Linked DNA regions of Homo sapiens: region 1 is linked to region 2. Evidence: fine-mapped expression QTL. A gene starts in region 2. The other region holds a variant in brackets. All regions are shown on one strand. Distances are between the middles of the regions. Region 1 has its middle 13 kb from the start of DCANP1. Region 2 holds the start of MACROH2A1 (macroH2A.1 histone).

Region 1 (2,904 bases), 35 kb after region 2:
CTAGACTATAATAATGTCTAGTAATAATTACTAGACTAAAGTAATGAGACTGTCTTGGGCAATTATGAAATATCTTCTGGGCTCATCTTTGAGAATGTGTGCCAGTGTCTTCTTGCTGCCTGGCAACTCAGGTATTCTTTGAGATTGGTTTGCACTTTCACCCTGAGTCCCTTAGACACATTTTCAAAAACTATTCTAATATGTCCCATCCAGGGAAAAAGACAGAAAAGAGCCTGGCCTAGAAACTCAAATGTAAGTACAGGTCATCTTCACAAGCAAGGGAGGAAAGAGGAAGGGTCACTTTCATCCTACTGATTTTTACTGAACCCCGACCAGGTGCCAGGTCTGGACCAGCCCCCTGGGAAATGGAAGTGAACAAGACACAGACCTTCCCTGGCCTCTACCTGCTGGATACTGGTAGTATCCTCTCCCCAAGCCAGACATTGTGAAATGTCCTCTGGGGAGAGGCAAAATCCACTCCGGTTGAGAACCACTAAGTTAAAGCATGATGTGTCCATGTGGTGGCATAGTATACTCATCAGGATAGTTTTTAGAAGTCATTAAAGATGTGTACAAAAATCTTCACAATATGACACAAAGAAAAAAGTTAGATCTATAATTTTACATATAAGAATAATACTAAAAGTACCAAATATACATACACAGTACATGGAAAGAGGTGGGAAGGAAATATAATAAAACATTATAAGAATTAAGCTGGATGGTAGGATAAATGACATGTTTCCAATTTTCTATTGTAAAAAACATTTTTTCAATAAGGATCAATGTTTTATATTTATTTTATGCATTTTTTTTGTTGTTGCAATTTTTAAAACCAGGCGGGTCTTGAACTTCTGGCCTCAAGCAAGCCTCCTGTGTCAGCCTCCCAAAGCTCTGCAATTACAGGCGTGAGCCACTGTGCCTGGCCCAATGTTTCATATTTATTTATTTGTACATACAATGTTGCTATGAGCCTGACCATTTATTTTAAGGAAATTTATTATTGGATATAACAGACATACAGAAAAGTGCACAAGTCATAAGTGTGTGGCTCAGGGGATTTCACTACGTGGTCATACCCATGTAGCCAGCACCAAGATCAGGGAACATCACAGGCGCTCTTACCTCCAGTGTCAACTTCCAGTCACCACCCCCCAGGGCTGACCCATTTCCTGATTTAAACTCCAGAGATTCTGTTTGCCTATTTTTAAGCTTCATATAAATGGAATCACACAGTGTGAACTCATTTGTGTCTGGCTGGCTTTGCTCAACATTGTTGAGCAATGTTGTTACTGTATGTAGTTGCAGTAGAGCACGGGTATGGATCATTTAAAAATCATAAAGCTATTTTTAAAAGAAGGCAGATTTGAAACCCTGGGACACTTTTTGCTTCCTGGGGAGCGCTACACAGTCCTTCTGCTGGGAAGTCGGCCCATGGCCTCCAGCCCCATCTGCTGCCCTGAAGATCCCAAACATTCTCTTGTGCAGTTGCTTCTGCAAAACTAAGGAGGATTTGTGCCAGTACTCCTGACCCTGCC[G/T]GCTCGCCCACCATCGCCAGTGATATGCATTTGGGCCCCTTGACAAGGAGGCCAATCAGATAGAATGGAGAGGGGGACATATGTGTCTCACCATGGTGGTGCCGGACATAAGGCTGACAGGAAGTGGTGTCCAGCAGGGGTTCAGATCCTCCTGAAGGGAGGGCCATCTCTTCCTGCTCCCGTGGTGACTGTCGCTGATAGGCCACAGGCAGAGAAGCAGAAGCTCTCTCTCAAAGGTCGCCCCATCTGGCCCTGGCTCATCACATTCCTCAGCGTAAAGCACCCTCTGCCCTTGTTCTCGTTGCAGCAATCCTATGAGGGTTAGGGCTAGGGGGGGCTACAGTTATTTTCCATTTTGTGGACCATGAGGCTGAGACTGGGGAAAGTCAGCCTGCAGAAGGGCACAAGCTGGGCTTCGTGTCCAGGACTCCATGACTCCCAAGCCCGAGTTCTTACCCCTGGATATTTGCCTCTAAAGGCCACCTCCCTGTCCCTCCCATGTCTGGCTGAGGTTGGGAGATGGGGGTCGTGACTCAGTCTCCGGTGATGGGCTCAGCCTGGCGAGCTGCTCCCAGCCAGCTGTGTGGTCAGGCAAGTCATTCTCCCAGAAGATGCTGCAGTTTGTTTGACCATAAAGTGGGCAGCTCAATACTTCTCTTCTTCTCACGCCAAGCCCCTCCTCCCCGAGCCTGCAGGAATCTCTGGAAAAATGTTCTGGAAAAACGGAGGCATTTTTACGACTCTCTCCTCACCTAAACCCGCTGCGCCAGGACAGAGCCCAGACCCTCGGGCTCTAACCGTTATCCTACACTTTGGACCCGGGCAGCCCCTGCCTTTGATGTTGTCTTGCTAAATGTCCCCGAGTCACTGGCGGGCTCTGATCTCTCCAGCACCTAATAATTCAGTCTGAAGTAGTGAGCAGCTAATCAGCTGGGCAACTCTTGCAGCTGCACAATGAAGTTGAAGGGAAAGGGGGTCCCTTTCATTCTTGGGGTCTCATTCTACAACCCGATGGCCAAGGCAGACAGCACCGTCCGCTGGCCAGGGGGTGGGGTTAATTCCTGCAAGGACCTGGGTGAAGGTCTGCCTGGCCAAGGCAGCCCGTTGCAAGGTTTGAATCATGGCTGTCTCAGCTGGGCCATCGGGTGGGAATTAAAATTTAATTTAGAAAGTCCTGTCTCTGCGGCCCTGGTGGCCGTCGTCTGGGTGATTGACTGGCTGGTTTCTTTCACCTTTGCACGTCTTGGGTTTTTACTGGCAGAGGAAATGAAGGCTGAACTGGGGCAGGAAATTCCATGTACACAGGTGTTTCTGATTAGCCCCGTGCACCTCACCCAGGGGCACAACCAGGGGCTGAGATGCCTGC
Region 2 (2,904 bases):
TCTCTCTCCTTGTAAAACTAGAAGGGGGAAGAATTTGAAGTCTTTCAAGAGTTTTGTTGTGTTTAAGAAAAAATAAGTTTGAAAACATACTCATCCTCATCAGAGAGTCTCTTGTGCAAGACTGAGATGCTGCTGCCCAACTCTAGTTAAATGTGTACAATGGGTATTAATTCCAGTTGCAGGCAAGAGGTGTCCATTTCAGAGTTAACACCTCTGACAACAGGCTAGTAGCCTAAAGGTGGCCTGCAGTAGGTGAATTCCACCTAATTTACAACTCGAGTCTCCCATTCAAACCTAAGACTGTTAAAAAATGCCCGACTCCCTGGAGCAGGGAGCTTTGGAACAAAACACTTCCCTTACCCCCTACTTTAACGGTAAAACCTCAAACCACAAAGGTGGAAGAAAAGAGGGAAGCTAGCAGGAGTGCCCCCTCTAATTGTCTATTCTTATGTGCTGTTTACTGGGTCATTAAAATCTTACAAGGCCTTTATAGTCATTGTAATTGTTGAATTCAAGGTTTGTCCCAGTTGTTTGTACAGAAGTCTCTCACTTTGAAACTCAGAAACATTTCCCCTAACATCTTGTCTAAAAGAACCTTTCAAGCAATGTACTGACCAACTCCTTGAGTGATCTGTGGCCCCTGCAGGAGTGGGGGTAGGGAGCGCCATGTCGCACACCTGTTGTCAGGTGACACTGCCAGCAGCATCCTGCACACTCACCTCCCCACTCCACCCCACCCCCAGCGAGGCTCTTTCCTGCTGGCCTTCTCCACCCGGGGAAGCCTACAGCCTTCCGGAGTTACCTTTTAAAAAAAGCAAACCCTTCCTACCACAAAGCAAACAAAAGGCTGATACCGAGACAATCGGGAGCAGCGGGGGTTCCCGTGGCCCCTCTCCAGCCCATCCTTGGACCACTCCCCAACCCGGTCCCCCGCACCAGCCCGGCTTCAATCCCGCGAGTAGCCCCCGCCTTCCCCTCCCTGCAGATAGCGAGCCAGACGCCTACACCTCGGCCCCCCGGGGCTCGGGCCCGACTTATTGTGCCGGGGCCGGCAACTCGCGGGCCGGCGGGGGCCTCACCAAGTACAACTCTGCTCACAGCAGCTCCCGGGTGCCCAGGCCCAGACTGCCTAGCCAGCGCCGCGGGGCCTCCTGCGGCCTCGGGCCTGGCCCGTGAGCCCGCCCCAGGAAGGGTCGCCAGGGTAGGCGCCAGCACCGCTTTTTTCCCACAAAAGCGCCCAGGCGCGGGCAGGGGGATGCGTTTCGAAGAGAAGTTGGTTTCCAGGTTTCTTTTTTGAACAAAACCAAAGGGAATCCCGCGCGGCCCGACAAGGCCTGGGAGGACGTAGTGCACGCGCGAGGACCCGGCGTGGGCCACACCGAACCCGGCGGCCCGAGCCCGGCCCGCACCACACCGGTGCGCGCCAGGCCGGGCCGCTCCCGGGCACCCGCGGCCGGACCCGAGCGGCGGGGACAGGGAGTGCGGCAAGGGGGCCCGCGCGGCACTTACGCGGCGGCTCGGTGGCGGCGGCGGCAGCTGCAAGGTGTCTCGGCCTGAGCCCTCCTGGCCGCTCGCGCCTTTTCTCTCCGCGCTCCTCGCTGGCCCGCCCGCCTCTTCGCTTCCCGCCCGCGCGGCCCGCGCTCTCCCCCTCCGCCCGGCGCCGCTGCCGAGTGAACTGGAACCAGTCCTCGCGGCCGGCTTCCCACAATGCACAGCGCGCCGCTCGTCACATCCCTTCGCGGCCCCGAGCGTCCGGCCTCCGCGCCCGTGCCGCCCGGCGCCCCGGCCTTGACCCCGGGCCCGCGCCCTACCCGTTGACGCCGGCCGCTCTGCGCCCAGGCACCAGCCCGCACCCCGGACGCGAGGTCTGACCCATGACCCCGGGGACGCCCAGAGCCCAGTCCTTGGGAAGGGCCAGGCCCCTGGAGAGGAGCTTCTTCAGGGCGCGTCCCAGACTCTGCGTCTCGAGTGAACGCCTACTGTGTGCCTGGCTCTGAGCACGGGACTGTCGCTGCCACGGCATCTTTAGGAACCTTCCCACTAACCCAGTGGGAAGGCACAATGGCTGTTACCAGCGATCGCTCTTCCCTCCCCAGTCAATGCCAACTCCCCCCTGCCCCGCCTCAGAGACCCCGCTGTCTTTAGATACAGGCCACCGCCAAGCCCTGGTCTGCCCCAAGATCAATTACTGCGCACCCGGTTCCCCTGGGGTCCTTCAGTTAATCCTCCTCACCCCGAAGTCTGGAACCTGCCTTGCACATGGAAGCGGTTAGCTACTTCGCTTCAGCAAAAGTTCACTTTCGGACCCAAGTTGGGAATTACTAATGTAGACAGTGATTCCTTATCATCACACACGTTTTTTAAAAACTGCGGACAGGCCGAAAGAGGAGGAGCCGCCACAAAGCCCGCCACGTCTTCCTAAATTGGTTTACCGCCTGAAGGCATTGGTGCCCCATCCCGGGTACTTAAATGGGGGCCTGCCCTCTACTCCCCTCCCTCCAAAGTGTGGAGCCGGAAGCCACTTCTCCATCCAGCTGTGAACTAAATTTGGATAATAATACACATCCCTCAGGGTTGATGTGAAGTTTAAAGTGCCGCTACTGGGGATTATGGAGGTAATTAGAGACCCCCACCCCCACCCCCCAGTCCTCAGGCTGCGCGGGAATCGCAGCGGCAGTAACCTCCACCTCACCGGGATGCTTTACACCTTACTTTAAGAGTTTGCAAAACAATGTCCAATACCTGCCATTCATGCATTCGTTAATTCGATTAAGTACTGAGAACGTATTTTGTGTCATACATCGATTTGGGTGCTGGATATGAAACAGCCAAGAGAACAGGCAGAAATCTCTGCCCTCCTGTAGTTTGCAGTCTCGTGGGGGAAAGACAGACAAACGGGAGAAT

What was found. PIP is the estimated chance that this variant, and not a neighbour inherited with it, causes the effect. A credible set is the group of variants that fine-mapping cannot tell apart.
Region 1: its variant is the best candidate, but not a certain one, in a credible set for the expression of MACROH2A1 in whole blood (TOPMed, PIP 0.59).

Annotation. Positions count from the first base shown.
Region 1 is chr5:135,432,599-135,435,502 of GRCh38, forward strand. No RefSeq gene overlaps it. Among named protein-coding and RNA genes, the nearest start is that of DCANP1, 13 kb to the right of the region's middle. RefSeq lists an enhancer at 1,311-2,904. The variant G/T (reference allele first, on the strand shown) is at 1,539.
Region 2 is chr5:135,397,553-135,400,456 of GRCh38, forward strand. MACROH2A1 (macroH2A.1 histone) reads right to left here and starts at 1,679. Exons shown (of 9, transcript NM_138610.3): 1 at 1,510-1,679. RefSeq lists silencers at 1,015-1,074, 1,385-1,554, 1,565-2,024 and enhancers at 1,925-2,430, 2,431-2,904.